4 linked regions of the Homo sapiens genome follow. The protein of the gene in region 1 purifies or fractionates together with the protein of each later gene. This does not show direct contact. Each region holds a gene or a part of one and is shown in the gene's direction. Other genes may lie near its edges.

Region 1 (5,314 bases):
GCCTCCCAAAAGTAACCACTATTATTGTTTTCCTGTGTATCTTTCCAGAGTTTATTATATACATAAAGGAGTATACAGTGCATACTTTTTCATTTAATACATCTTGAAGTAATTTCCGTTTCTTTTGTTTTTTCTTTTCTTTCTTTCTTGAGACAGAGTCTCACTCTGTCACCCAGGCTGGAGTGCAGTGGCACCATCTCGGCTCACTGCAACCTCCACTTCCTGGGTTCAAGCCATTCTCCTGCCCCAGCCTCTCAAGTAGCTGGAACTGCAGGCACGAGCCACCACACCTGGCTAAGTTTTTGTATTTTGGGTAGAGATAGGGTTTCTCCATGTTGCCCAGGCTGCTTTTGAACTTCCTGAGCTCAAGCGATCTGCCCACCTTGGCTTCCCAAAGTCCTGGGATTATAGGCGTGAGCCACTGCGCCTGGCCTCGAAGTAATTTCTCAGTCAGTAGGGAGCTTCTTCGTTCTTCATGAAATTCATTTTTAGCTATATAGTATTTAAATAATTTATTTAACCAGTCCCGCACTGGTAAACAAGTTGTTTTTAGCCTTTTGCTGTTACTAAGAATGCTGCAATGAATAACCTGCAGTTTTGTTCCTTTGCAAGTGTATCTGCAAGAATAAGTTCCACAAAGTGGAATTGGTGGATTAAGGGCATATGCATTGAAGTACTTATAGATATTGTCAGATTGCCCTTAATAGGTGTTGTACCATTTTGCCACCAGCAATGAAAGAGAATGCCTGTTTCCCCATTGTGCTGACAACAAAATACATCAAACTTGGATTTTTTTCAATCTAAGTGACAGATAGTCTGAGTAGATTTAATATGCATTTTTAAATGAAGTTGAGTGCCTTTTTACCAAGTTTAAGGGCTGATTGGTCTTTGAAAGCTATATATATACACATATATACATGAACATATATATAGACATATATATAGAGAGAGAGCTTAAGACAGTGACCACATCCATTAATCAGCTAAAAGGGGATATCACAGACAATTTTGTATCTAATGAATAACAGTATCAATGTCAAGCAATGCCTAGACTTTTTTCCAAAGATTTTATGTATTTTATTACCCAGTACTCAATGAATATATGAAATATTTGAAAAGGCTAGTTCATTGTTCAGTTCCTTGGGTGTTTGCTGTTTGAATTTTATGTCTCAAAGGCTTGGCAGATTTGGTGTATTGGTGCCTTGGTGAATAGAAGTTGGTGGTCTCTTCATAAATGGCGTTTTCAGGAAGGCCAATTCAGTGGCAGTGTTGAGAATGAATCTACAAACAGAATCAGAGTCTCAGGTTGGTTGAAAAAGCTTCAATGTTTGTGAAGCCCAACCAATCACCTAATAATTGAATCCTATACAAATGCTTCTTCATGCTTTGTTGCATATTTAAGTGTCTTAATTCCTTGTCCTAACCACTAACTAGACATTCATACTGCCCTCAGCATGGTCACACCCCTCACTGCCTTCTCCTGGTTCATCAAACCGTATCACTCTGCTGAAATGCGTTTGTCTTTAGTTGAGAACTATCCCTGCCTTTTACAATTTGTCTCTCTTAGAGGCATGCTGCTTTGACCTATTCACCCTCAATTTTTTTTTTCTTTTTTCTTGAGACGGAGTCTCGCTCTGTCACCCAGGCTGGAGTGCAATGATGTGATCTTGGCTCACTCCAACCTCCGCCTCCAGGGTTCAAGTGATTCTCGTGTCTCAGCCTCCCAAGTAGCTGGGATTACAGGCACCTGCCACCATGCCCAGCTAATTTTTGTATTTTTAGTAGAGACAGAGTTTCACCATGTTTGCCAGGCTGGTCTCGAACTCCTGACCTCAGGTGATCCACCCACCTTAGCCTCCCAAAGTGCTGGGATTACAGGTGTGAGCCACCACGCCTGGCCAACCTATTCACCCTCAATCTAATGACCGTTTAAAACCACTCCCTACAGAATAGATTAATAAAATATTTCCTGATTTAAATTTTTAAATACCTGTGATTTTTCCATTTGTTTTTATTTTTATACATTATAAAGTTACTTGTATGTGTAAGCCTAAAGAAGACTATACTTATAGAGAAAACAAAACTGCAGACTGGAAAGCCCTAGGCATTCAGTGAAACCCAAAAGCTAAAGTTGAGTTCCCCTTGGTTAGTGTATCTGGAGACCTCTCTTTAGGATTATGGTGTAAATTACAGGGATACCTATCCAAAGAATATCTAGAGATATCCCTTTCTCCCTGCTAGCTAGGGATTGTATTTACCTTTCTGACTATTAGTGAAGAAATCAATCTTTTATCATGTTGGGTAAACTGATCCTTTCCCCACTGACTTTGTAGATTAGGAACCTGTAATCATGGCCTTGCATGGCTTAAGATCTTAAGATCATCACTAAAGAATAGCTTAGTGATGTTCATGTCTGCAGTCATCAGAATGTAGTGATAAAAATTGTGTTAATGCCTAGGCCTGAAGAGAGAAAGGAGAGTCTGGTAAGGAGATGAAATAAGTATAGACCCTCTCTGTAGGACCCGCAAAAGGTTTCCAGCCTTATGAAACCTACTTAGTGGAAGCTTCTGCCAGAGGCTGAAGGTGTGTCTGTGTATCTGGTTGGGTGTGGCGAGCTCTCTAGAGCCAAAGGGCAGCCTGTTCTGGTCCCAGGTTTGCCAAACATACCACCTACGTGCTGACCTGAGTATAAGCATGAGGGCGTGAGGTTTATTTTTTACTCCACCTAATTTGGTGAGGTGCATGCTTTCACTCACGCTCCAAGTTGCCTCTTCTTTTCCATGGAACCTGCTTATTCTCACTACGGTTGATAGTGGGTTAGTATAATAGATAACTCTAGAAATCAAAGATGGCCTTTCTCCTTTGGGGACTAGACATTTAGAAGAATCACAATAAATTGGGTAGTTTTTTTTTTAAGCTATAGTTTTTGAACTCTTCCTATATGCCTGGCACTGTGGTTTATCTCATTTAATTTTCACAACTACCATATGAAGTGGGTACTCTTACTGGTCCCAATTAGTAGTTATTAATATCATCTTCTCATTTTATAAATAAGGAAGCTGAGGCTTAGAAAGGCTAATTGATTTGCACAAGGTCACACAGGCAATGATGCATAGTAAACAGGGGTTCATACCCAGGTTTGTCATATTCCACAGCTTGTGTTTTTTCCTCTTCACTAAAAAGATAAAAACAAACCAAAAAACCCCTATTGGTTCAAAGGGCAGTAATTCTTGCTTCCTTATTAAGGATGAGGCTCTTGCAAATAAATTTCTTGGGAACAAGAATTGTGTTTTACTCATCATTGTCAACCTTCTATCATTGTCTACCTTCTATCACTGTATACCTTCTATCATTGTATACTCTCCTACACTTAATTCATACGTATATGTGAAATGGAATATGAATAATCTGACCTTAGGGTACCCTAAACATGAGTAGCTAACAAAAGCAACCGAGACTTATTAAGAACTTACTCTGTACCAGGTACCATTTTAAATGCTTTACATATATTGATGTATATGAAGATAGTTTCAGTTGTTATCTCCATTCGGCAGATGAGGAAACTACACACAAAGATACCAAATAACAAGTTGTAAGTGGTGGATCCAGAATTCTAACCCAGCAGTCTAATTGAAGTCCACATGGTTAAACTCTATGCTATAAATACTTTGAGCAACTCCCAAAGTGGGGCTCCAACTATTGTGTAGACCTATACGTGGATCCTGGAGTAAGGTCAAGTGATTCCAGTGTCTTCATTTAACATTTCTGCCATGAGGAGGCATCCGAGGAATGAGGATGGATCAGGGAATGGTAAAATTTCCAATTTCTTCTTGCCACTGGACTCATCTCTCAGAGGCAGGCAGTGAGGAAGATAACTTCTACCATTTGGGAGAATTTTATTGACAATCATCTTTGTACTTTGGGTAGCTGTATGACCTAGAAGAAATCACTTAACCTCTCTGTGCCTTAGTTTCCACATCTCCAAAATGTGGGTGGTAATAGTACAGTCATGGTGGCTTACGCCTATATTCCCAGCACTGTGGGAGGCCAAGGAGGGAGGATTGCTTGAGCCCAGGAGTTTGAGACCAATGGGACATAGTGAGACTTCGTCTCTACTAAAAATAAAAAAAAAATAGCTGGGTGCAACAGCATGCATCTGTAGTCCCAGTTACTCAGGAGGCGGAGGTGGGAGGATGGCTTGAGCCCAGGAGGTCAAGGCTGCAGTGAGCTGTTTTCACACCACTGCACTCCAGCCTGGGTGACAAAGTGAGACCCTTTCTCAAAAAATTTAAAAAAGGCCAGGCATGGTGGCTCATGCCTATAATCCCAGCATTTTGGGAGGCCGAGGCGGGTGGATCACCTGAGGTCAGGAGTTCGAGACCAGCCTGGCCAAAATGGTGAAACCCCATCTCTACTAAAAATGCAAAAATTAGCAGAGCGTGGGGGTGTGTTCCTATAGTCCCAGCTACTCAGGAGGTTGAGACACGAGAATTGCTTGAACCCGGGAGGAGGAGGCTGCAGTGAGCTGAAATCTCACCACTGCACTCCAGCCTGGGTGACAGAGTGAGACTGCTTCTCAAAAAAAAAAAAAAAAAAATTGTGCTTGCCTCATACATGTAAGCATTTATCCTGTTAGAGCACCTGTGTAGGTGCTCAATAAATATTAGCTGCTAGTGTTATTACCATATTTTTGTGCAAATACGTAAACATCTGGTGGCAACCAGGAATGTGTGCCTCTCAGATCTCCTACACTGGGGAGGGGAGGGTAATTGACTCCTGACCCCAGCTCTGAATCTAACACCTTGTTCACACTGAGGTCACACTTTCCACAGACTGCTCCTAGTCAATGACTGGGCAGGACAGACCCACTTCCATGAGATGTTTTACTCCTCTAGTGGGTGACTTTGGCTTAAAGACTCTCACTGCACACTGCTAAGTCCCTCATTCTCCCTTCTCCCTCCTAAAGGAGGGATAATAATTAGGGTCCCTCCTAAAGGAGGGATAATAAATTAGGGTCACACCTGCATTTGATCTCTTAGCTCTCCCAGACTCCTCCGGCTTCCTTCCCATTTTCTATCATGGGCGTTTCCCCCAGTACATCTCTCGCATGTCTGATCCTGTTTTGGTGTCTGTTTCTCACAGTATCTGAGCTAAGACAACATCTAACAGTTACTGATATAGTCTCTTCCAGCCATGAGGTTAATACAACTTCTTTAGGACTTGGCAAAGGTTCTGACATAGGACCCCTTCTATGTGGAAGATAAGTGTTACTAATCTTAATTTTTTTTGTATTTGCTGATACCACAGCATATGA
Region 2 (3,500 bases), on another chromosome or scaffold:
ATTCAACACTTTTCTTAACTAATTTAACTGGTATGGTCTCCATAGTAGTCCACTGTTTTGTTTCCTGTGTTAACTTCCCTTTTGTTTCAAAAGCTCTTAGAATAAGGAGTCAACTGGATTTTTATGTCCATGGACCCCTTGTGATTATATGCAGTGTACGCTGTGTGTGCGTGTGTGTGTGTGTGTGTGTGAGAGAGATCCTTTTACTTAGAAAAAGGTCTACTATGCTCATTAGAAGATCAAAAGCAGATTCTCCTTACTTGTAACATAGGAGTTTCAGGATTAATCTGTATTCAAGCTCATTCTATATCCTTCATCAAAGAAAAGACAATGTTTTGTGTCTGTTGTCCCTCTCACACACAGCCCTAATATATAATGTGTAACTGCCTTATCTGCAGCCCTAAACTAATATAGCTAGAGGTCTTCTAATCATTCTCCTACCTCTAGGAAAGAAATATAGTCTTGAAAACTGCCAATCTGGTGTGCATACAAAATATATACAAAATACCAAGGAACATTATATGAGCCTTTTGCTAGGTATATCTAAGCAACTGCTTCAGTTAATGGCCACTTTACAAATTGCTGAAAGAAGGAAACGTCTTTCGATTCTTTTTTTTTTCTTTTTTTTTTTTTGAGACAGAGTCTCTGTCTGTTACTCAGGCTGTAGTGCAGTGGCACAATGATAGCTCCCTCCAGCCTCAAACTCCTGGGCTCAAGCATTCCTTCTGCATCAGCCTCCTGACTAGCTGGAACTCAGGCTCATGCCACCAGACCTGGCTAATTTTTCTGTTTTCAGTAGAGAAAATATTTTCTTTCACTAATTTAACTGGTATGGTTTCCATTGTCTACCCAGTTTTCCATATGCATAAGAAAATATATTCACAGGAAAATATAAAGTTTTCAGATTTCATGAGTGGTTTTAAGAAAGTTTTAGTCAGTGAAAAAACTATCATACCAGTCTTCAAAGGAAGGGTGAAATAAGTTCATCTGCTACGTTGCCCAGGCTGGTCTTGAAGGGAAACAGACTTTTTTGTAGTCATACTTATCCTTTGGCTTCTTAGTAAGTATTATATAGTCATTACTTTTTGCAGTTTTTTAGATCAAAGTGTTAATGTAGGTAAAGTTAATTTTAGAATATATGTAAAAGTCAAGTCTGCTTTAAATTTAATCATCTCTTTGGTGAAAGGGATGGGATGGAGCTTTGCTTTTTATCATATATTCATCTGTACCTTTCAAGTATTCAAATAGAAAAATATAAACAATGTAAATAAAATAGCAAAACAATGTAATATCTCATAAAACTGCAATGGTAAAAGCATTTATCCTATTGAAATTCCACAATTTTTATTTGAAAATATTATCGACATGTAATTCAAGTGGCATTTAGAAGAATAATTTAAAAGCAACAACTCTATAGAAAGCTTGTAAAATGATTAAGTAGTTTAAACCAAATAAAACAATTTCTGAGTCAGTCATCTCCAGTAGGTCTATTTTAGTCTCAAGATAAATTCATTTCTGGTGACAACTGAAGTTCTTAGTTATTTGTTAGTATATATTGGAGACATTTACAATAAAGCTTAGAGCACAATGGGAAATGAAAGTATCATGTTTTTTTTAAGACCAAATGTATTGCAGAAATGTGAGTAATTTAATCCGATGCTACAATCTGATCATTCTGATCTAATCTGATCATTTAATAACACTAAATAAAACCTTCATCTCACATTCTTTGGCTGTTTCTTTTAAAATATGGGTTTACGGATAAATCAAATAAATTCAAAACAAAGTAATAAGCAAATGATTTTTTTTTCTCAGTAATCTAGTAGAGTATTACATTTAGAAGTAATCTGTATCTCAGTGCAGTAACTATTTAGGACTGTAAGCGCCGCTGTTCACCTACTGGAAGACAAATGCAACCGAAAACACTCAGATCTCACACCTCACGAAGACCCGCAGATGCCACAAACTAACTGCTGGACTGCAGCGAAACCCGACCCCTGTTTGGAGGCACTCCAGGTTTCCGGAGGATTGTCATCTCCATAGCTGCGGCAAGAAACTAAATAAGACCCATTTATGCACAGTGAAGATTCTGAGAGGATTCTGCAGCAAAACAACAATGGCCGCTCCACAGAGTCGCCCCAGACGCGGCGAGCTGATCCTGCTGTGCGCGCTGCTGGGAACGCTGTGGGAAATCGGGAGGGGACAGATTCGCTACTCTGTGCCAGAAGAGACGGACAAAGGCTCCTTCGTGGGTAATATCTCCAAGGACCTGGGGCTGGACCCCCGGAAGCTGGCGAAGCACGGAGTCCGTATCGTCTCCAGAGGTAGGACGCAGCTCTTTGCTCTGAACCCGCGCAGCGGCAGCTTGATCACCGCGGGCAGGATAGATCGGGAGGAGCTCTGCGCTCAGAGCCCGCGGTGTCTGATAAATATTAACACCCTGGTTGAGGATAAAGGAAAACTCTTTGGGGTAGAAATAGAAATAATTGATATTAACGATAATAACCCAAAATTCCAGGTCGAAGATCTAGAAGTAAAAATTAACGAAATCGCGGTTCCTGGAGCACGTTATCCACTCCCAGAAGCTGTTGACCCGGATGTGGGCGTGAACTCCCTCCAGAGCTACCAGCTCAGCCCCAATCACCACTTCTCCCTGGACGTGCAGACTGGAGACAATGGAGCCATAAACCCAGAGCTGGTGCTGGAGCGCGCCCTGGACAGGGAGGAAGAGGCTGCTCACCACCTGGTCCTCACGGCCTCGGATGGCGGCAAGCCGCCTCGCTCTAGCACAGTGCGCATCCACGTGACAGTGTTGGATACAAATGACAATGCCCCGGTTTTTCCTCACCCGATTTACCGAGTGAAAGTCCTTGAGAACATGCCCCCAGGCACGCGGCTGCTTACTGTAACAGCCAGCGACCCGGATGAGGGAATCAACGGAAAAGTGGCATACAAATTCCGGAAAATTAATGAAAAACAAACTCCGTTATTCCAGCTTAATGAAAATACTGGGGAAATATCAATAGCAAAAAGTCTAGATTATGAAGAATGTTCATTTTATGAAATGGAAATACAAGCCGAAGATGTGGGGGCACTTCTGGGGAGGACCAAATTGCTCATTTCGGTGGAAGATGTAAATGACAATAGACCAGAAGTGATCATTACGTCTTTGTTTAGCCCAGTGTTAGAAAATTCTCTTCCCGGGACAGTAATTGCCTTCTTGAGTGTGCATGACCAAGACTCTGGAAAGAATGGTCAAGTTGTCTGTTACACACGTGATAATTTACCTTTTAAATTAGAAAAGTCAATAGGTAATTATTATAGATTAGTGACAAGGAAATATTTGGACCGAGAAAATGTCTCTATCTACAATATCACAGTGATGGCCTCAGATCTAGGAACACCACCTCTGTCCACTGAAACTCAAATCGCTCTGCACGTGGCAGACATTAACGACAACCCTCCTACTTTCCCTCATGCCTCCTACTCAGCGTATATCC
Region 3 (3,500 bases), about 30 Mb from region 1:
TTCCTTATGAACTCCTTAAATAGGTTCTGTGCCTTGTAGCTCTCTCACTTATAATCTTCTGTTATTATACTGGAGCCCTGTTGATGTGGTAGTAAAGTGTTGGAGGAGAATCTGTTTATACTTTTATGATTAAATCTTATTCTTTTAGTGGCCTGAGCCTCTGGACTGTGGCCTTCAGAAGTGTTTCTTAGCCTTTTCTCTTTCTCTCTTCTTAAGTAATACAGAAAGGCTATAGACAGCTGGAGTTGGCTAATTTTCTTCTCTCAGGTCAGATAAGGCTCTGACATCTTCCCTTGAGATGGAGGGAATAATCTAGGTATATTTTAAAATGATTACTTCTTTCCATCCCCCAGAAAGAGGAGGAGATTTTTCTTGGCTCTTTACTGTGAGAATCTGGTGGGGTTCCTGGAAGTAAAACTCATGACAGTGTGATAGCATCCCCAAGACTGGGTCCCGAGGATGAAAACCCATGAAAGTGTGGTAAGCATCCCTAAGACCAGGACCTGAGGAGGTTTTTATTCTCAAGCTAGTCCACACTCATCCTTTAGCAGTTTGTCGGAGTTACTGCTTAAGTACTTCTACTGGTTTATGACTCCAGCAGCTTCTGCATGAGGTGATTTGATCTTAGCTGTAATTTTCTTAATCTCCTTCTTTCTCCAGTTTTCTGAGTGGCAGTTTGCCCTGTCACTTCAATTCTCTGAGGAATCTAAGAAAAGCTGTTGATTTTCAATTTGTTCAGCTTTTGTTCTTATTATAGGGTGGGAGTGATGACCTCTCATGTGAGAGGGAAACCTGGAAGTCAATAGTGGCTTTGGAAATGGCAGTTTATTTTTCTTTCACACTAATGTAGCCAGCCCAGGGCAGATATGGCAGCTAGCTCTGTGATCATCTGGGACCCATGATCCTTTTATCTTGTCACTCTGCCATCTTCAGTATGTATCGTCCACCTTGTGTTTGGAAATGGCTTATCCATCTCCAGTCATCACATAGTATTCCAAACATTCTGCAGGAAATAAGGAGAGAGAGAGAAAGAGACAGTCTTTTAAGACATCCTTTTAGTTTAAGGATACTTCCTAGAAGTTGCTCTTGCCACTTTTGCATAAATCCAGGCCTACTAGACCCCTGAGTTTGCATGACCAAACATACCTGCAGTGGAGGTTGGGTGATACAGGTTTAATCTGGATATGTCATGGCCAGCTAAAAATGCACAGAATGGAAATTGAAGAGCAATTAGCAGTCTCTACCACAACAGTGTTCCAAGGCTTTCCTCAGATTATGAAAGGTGTCTGTTTCACAACACAGCTTAAGAAAACTCTGCTTTACAAAATTGCTGTGAGAGTTGTGGTCACAGCATGTCAGTACCCGGTTGGCACTGGCACCAACATACCCAGAATATTTAGCCCAAGCTGACTTGCATTCAGTCACTCACATGTCCTGAAGGCTTACCATGGCTCAGATGTCAGGCTGATAATAAGCTAATCCCTCCCTACCCTTAAGGAGTGCCCAGTCTGGTATTGTAAATCTCCAGCTCATTGCTGGACATGGTTGCAGCATTTTTAAAGAGTAGGCATCCTGTGTTTTTTGTCTTATCTGGCTACAGGAGCAGTGATGCATAGCTGTGAGGGTATGGTAGAAGCCAGTTAGCATAAGGTGTGGTGGGGATAAAAGGGTGCTGGGCCCAACTCTGTATGATTTTTTTTCCCTGACAGCTTCCCCAGCCAGCAGATTGTTGCTGGATCAAGTGGGCATGAAAGAGAATGAAGACAAATATATGTGTGAGTCAAGTGGGTTCTACCCAGAGGCTATTAATATAACATGGGAGAAGCAGACCCAGAAGTTTCCCCATCCCATAGAGATTTCTGAGGATGTCATCACTGGTCCCACCATCAAGAATATGGATGGCACATTTAATGTCACTAGCTGCTTGAAGCTGAACTCCTCTCAGGAAGACCCTGGGACTGTCTACCAGTGTGTGGTACGGCATGCGTCCTTGCATACCCCCTTGAGGAGCAACTTTACCCTGACTGCTGCTCGGCACAGTCTTTCTGGTAAGGGTCTTTCTGGACATTTCTTCTCTTCCTTGCCTTGAGGGACTATAACATAAGACTTATTCCCACACAGCCTGGGTCTTAGCTGGGGACTGAAGGGGAAACAGAGAAAGCTTGGACTGGAAGGACCAAGCTGGAGTCTGGCCTAGCTCAGCCCCAGAGTCAGCAGTCCAGCCTAGGTCCCTACACCTGGGCAGATGATGGTCTTAGTAGGTGGAGAGTGGTGACTGTAGTCATCAGGTGGAGCAGGGCTATTTGTCAGCTCATGGCAGCTTCAGGGTTTTGGATGGTCCATATGGCTTGAAATAGGAAACCTGCCAGTTGCTAGGGGAATGGGGACAGTATCCTACCCGTGTTCCCTGAGGATAAGGGGCTATCAGGGGCCAGGGACCAGTCCTGCTAGCAGCCCTTCTAATAAGGCTCTAGGTCCACTGTAAACTGTTGGCTGGTAGAGGCTGACTCAGTAGTCTTGTCTTTTTTTTTTTTTTGAGATGGAGTTTCGCTCTTGTTGCCCAGGCTGGAGTGTAATGGCGTGATCTCAGCTCACCACAACCTCTACCTCCCGTGTTCAAGCGATTCTCCTGCCTCAGCCTCCTGAGTAGCTGGGACTACAGGCATGCACCACCACGCACGGCTGATTTTGTATTTTTAGTAAAGATGGGGTTTCTCTATGTTGGTCAGACTGGTCTCGAACTCCTGACCTCAGGTGATCCGCCCGCCTCAGCCTCCCAAAGTGCTGGGATTACAGGTATGAGCCACAGCACCCGGCCAGTAGTCTTGTCTTATGGGCTGTGTCCCAAGATGGGGAGGGCTACAGTAGAGTGGTTCTGCAAATGCTCAATGCCTTCCCCAGGCACACTGGATCCTTAAAACACAGTTCACGGCAGACCCACTCCTGCTGGTGGGCTGGGGCTTTTTGAGCTCATATGCCTTGGTCATAGCTCTGGTCTTGGGTGTGGGTGGCTCTGCTGGTAAAATGCATCTCCCTGGGGCTGAGAAGAGTAAGGAAGGCAGGGAGTGACTGGGGCACTGAGGAATGTGGTCAGGCAATGCCATATGGGGCCCAGGATGATCCTGGGGAGAGAGGAATTATTCTTGGAAGTTAGGACTAGGTGTGTGTGTGGGTGGCATGTGCAGGGATGCAGGGAGGGTATGTGTGTCCATGGGGAGTATGAAATGGAAATATACCTTGCATGTATGGTACGAGGGGTTGTCTATGTGGTATGCACATAGGGATAGAAGATGGTGTCGTATTACACAAGGTTTGAAGATGAGGGTAGCACAATTATGTGGTACGTGGTGTTCATCTTCCATATTTTTGGCAAGTGCTACATACACTGTTTGATGTATGGAGGTGTATGTGATAGGAATGGAGATGCTGAGACATGTGGCAGAGGGCTGGTGGTTAAATCTCTGACAAGGAGGATGACACAACCACACAGTTCCCAGCAG
Region 4 (2,204 bases), on another chromosome or scaffold:
CACTGCCCCACAGACTGGATGCAATGAGGGGCTCACAGGAGGCCCAGCCAGCCCGATTGTGGGCTGAGGGGTCTGCATTCAAGCACGATGTTCTAGAATAGGAGTTTAACGTGTCTACGTAACCTAGAATGTGGTTATTAGGAAAGGGGCTGTGCATGTGGGTGCAGCTGGCGGCACACCTGGTCACCAGATGGCCAGAAGCTGCCCATCAGCCCTGCCCAGATGTCAGCCTGGGAGCTCAGGCTGCTGCCGCTGGCTGGATGCCCTTTGGTGAAATGCCTGTTTTCAGCTAAGAAAGGAGAGGCCAGGCAAGCAAAGTCATGCCACAAAGCATATCAGAGACCCCCGCAGACTCCTGGCCCCGTCCCGCCCCCTGTCTGAGTTGTGTTTTTGTTGCTGTTCCTCTGTTGATGGCCAGCTCTGCTGTTGGCATGAGCCACTGATGTTCATGTGAGAATTACTGTTTTTAAGTGTCTCTCCACTTAGGTGTCCTCAGTTCCCACTTTTGCTCTCATTTGCCTTCACAGAGGCCACTCCACCTGTCCGGATCCAGCTGTCTGGTCATGGTTTGGTTTATTTATTTTGTCCTTCAGGGGCTGTTTTGCCCTAAGAATGAGGGGGCTTCCCCTGGTCTGCAGTTCCCAACTTTATCCCTTGCTGGCCATGCGAGCCCAGCCCTGGTGCCTCATGGGATGGGGGGGTAGGGGTCCCCAGGATCTTCTGGAGGAAGGTGGCCATGGATGGATGGGCTGTATCTGTGTTTTCCCTCTGGGAGTCTCATGGGTCCAGCATCAGGCCTGAGGTCAGCAACAGGGAAAGAGGGTGGGCACGGGGAGGGCTTGGCCCCGCCTATCTAGAGGCTTGCCTCGGGCCCCTCCTTGGGGAAGGTTTGCGTGCAGAGCTGCAAGGGAGAGGGTTCCAGAAGCATTGCCTTTTGCCTCGTCTAATAGGATCCTTAGGACACTGTGGGCTTTAGGAATGACTATAGATGCTCACACGTGTTTAAAGTGACATTTGGAGATGCTCTCAGTCCTGTGGCATCTGGCACGAAGTCTCCAAGAAGCCACTTTGCCTCTTCTCCCTTCAAGCACAAGCTTTACTGCAAAAGGGCCAGTCGCGTTTCTATTTCTCTCGATCCCAGGCTTCTGCGGACCGACGATACGTTTAAATGTTGTTCTAGTAAATATTCTTGAATGTATTAAAATGGCTGAAACAACAAGCTTGGGCTTTTCTAGCTTGCCCTCCACTCCCTGCCGTCCCTCTGACGTCGCATAAACCAGAACCCAGCTCCCTCCTGGGACTGGCTGTGGAGAGAAGGGCACCTCTGAGCCAGCCTGTGGCCCTACCCCAAGGCGCACTTCCTCATGTGGGCAGATCCTGACCAGGAGTCCAGGGTGGCCTCCCCTGGGCCACAGCACATCACCGTGTGGCCTGGGGCTGTGGGACAGTGAGCCCTGTAACCACTAGGGTTCTGTGACAGATGCCAAGACCCCAGAGACCGTGGCAGAGCTACCCCCAGGAGAGCGGAAGCCCCTACACAGCCCAGACACATGCCTTCCCTGGGGGCTGGGGAGTGTGTCTCGAGGGGTTTTGTTTGTTTTGAGGCATGTATCATCTTGGAAATAATTGTCAGGATGTATAAAATAGAGAAAAAGAAAAAAGGTATCCTACCCAGAGGCAACCAGATAAACTTTTTTGCCTGTGCATTGTTTTTTGTTGGTTTTTTCGAGACGGGGTCGATCACGGCTCACCACAGCCTTAACCTCCAGGGCTCCAGCAATCCTCCCACCTCAGCCTCCTGAGTAGCTGGGACCACAGGTGTGTGCCACCATCTCCAGCAGTTTGTTTATTTATTTTTTCTTTTTTTTTTTTTGGTAGAAATGGGCTTTTCGCCATGTTGCCCAAGCTGGTCTTGCACTTCTGGGCTGAAGCAATCCTCTCGCCTTGGCCTCCCAGAGCCTTGGGATTACAGGTGTGAGTCACTACAGTGATTGTGAATGCACTGAGCTGGCCTGGAGAACACTTACCACCTTGTCCACGTCACATGCAAAAGGCCCATGGTGGTGGTGCTTCCTGCACACGAGGGCATGTAGTGAATGCCCTTCCCAGGTGGAGACTCCTCAGGGTTGGGAGCCCAGCAACTGCCTTGGCCCTGAGTAAGCCAGGAGTTGCACTGTGACCTGCAAGTGCTTGGGAGCTGCACC

What was found.
Region 2: the proteins of CSTPP1 (region 1) and PCDHGB4 purify together in Homo sapiens (co-immunoprecipitation; one large-scale study listed by IntAct). This does not show direct contact.
Region 3: the proteins of CSTPP1 (region 1) and NCR3LG1 purify together in Homo sapiens (co-immunoprecipitation; one large-scale study listed by IntAct). This does not show direct contact.
Region 4: the proteins of CSTPP1 (region 1) and SPECC1L purify together in Homo sapiens (affinity purification with mass spectrometry; one large-scale study listed by BioGRID and IntAct). This does not show direct contact.

What each region holds. Positions count from the first base shown.
Region 1 is NC_000011.10:46,939,740-46,945,053, forward strand, and holds part of CSTPP1 (centriolar satellite-associated tubulin polyglutamylase complex regulator 1), read left to right. Parts: intron 1-5,314. UniProt on the Homo sapiens protein: Regulator of the tubulin polyglutamylase complex (TPGC) that controls cytoskeletal organization, nuclear shape, and cilium disassembly by balancing microtubule and actin assembly.
Region 2 is NC_000005.10:141,390,698-141,394,197, forward strand, and holds part of PCDHGB4 (protocadherin gamma-B4 isoform 1 precursor), read left to right. Parts: intron 1-1,935; exon of another isoform or gene 1,936-2,116; coding exon of another isoform or gene 2,117-3,500. Other genes in the region: PCDHGA8 (protocadherin gamma-A8 isoform 1 precursor), read left to right, coding at 2,117-3,500. UniProt on the Homo sapiens protein: Potential calcium-dependent cell-adhesion protein. May be involved in the establishment and maintenance of specific neuronal connections in the brain.
Region 3 is NC_000011.10:17,365,300-17,368,799, forward strand, and holds part of NCR3LG1 (natural cytotoxicity triggering receptor 3 ligand 1 precursor), read left to right. Parts: intron 1-1,709; coding exon 1,710-2,048; intron 2,049-3,500. UniProt on the Homo sapiens protein: Triggers NCR3-dependent natural killer cell activation.
Region 4 is NC_000022.11:24,416,035-24,418,238, forward strand, and holds the end of SPECC1L (cytospin-A), read left to right. Parts: 3' UTR 1-1,704; downstream 1,705-2,204. UniProt on the Homo sapiens protein: Involved in cytokinesis and spindle organization. May play a role in actin cytoskeleton organization and microtubule stabilization and hence required for proper cell adhesion and migration.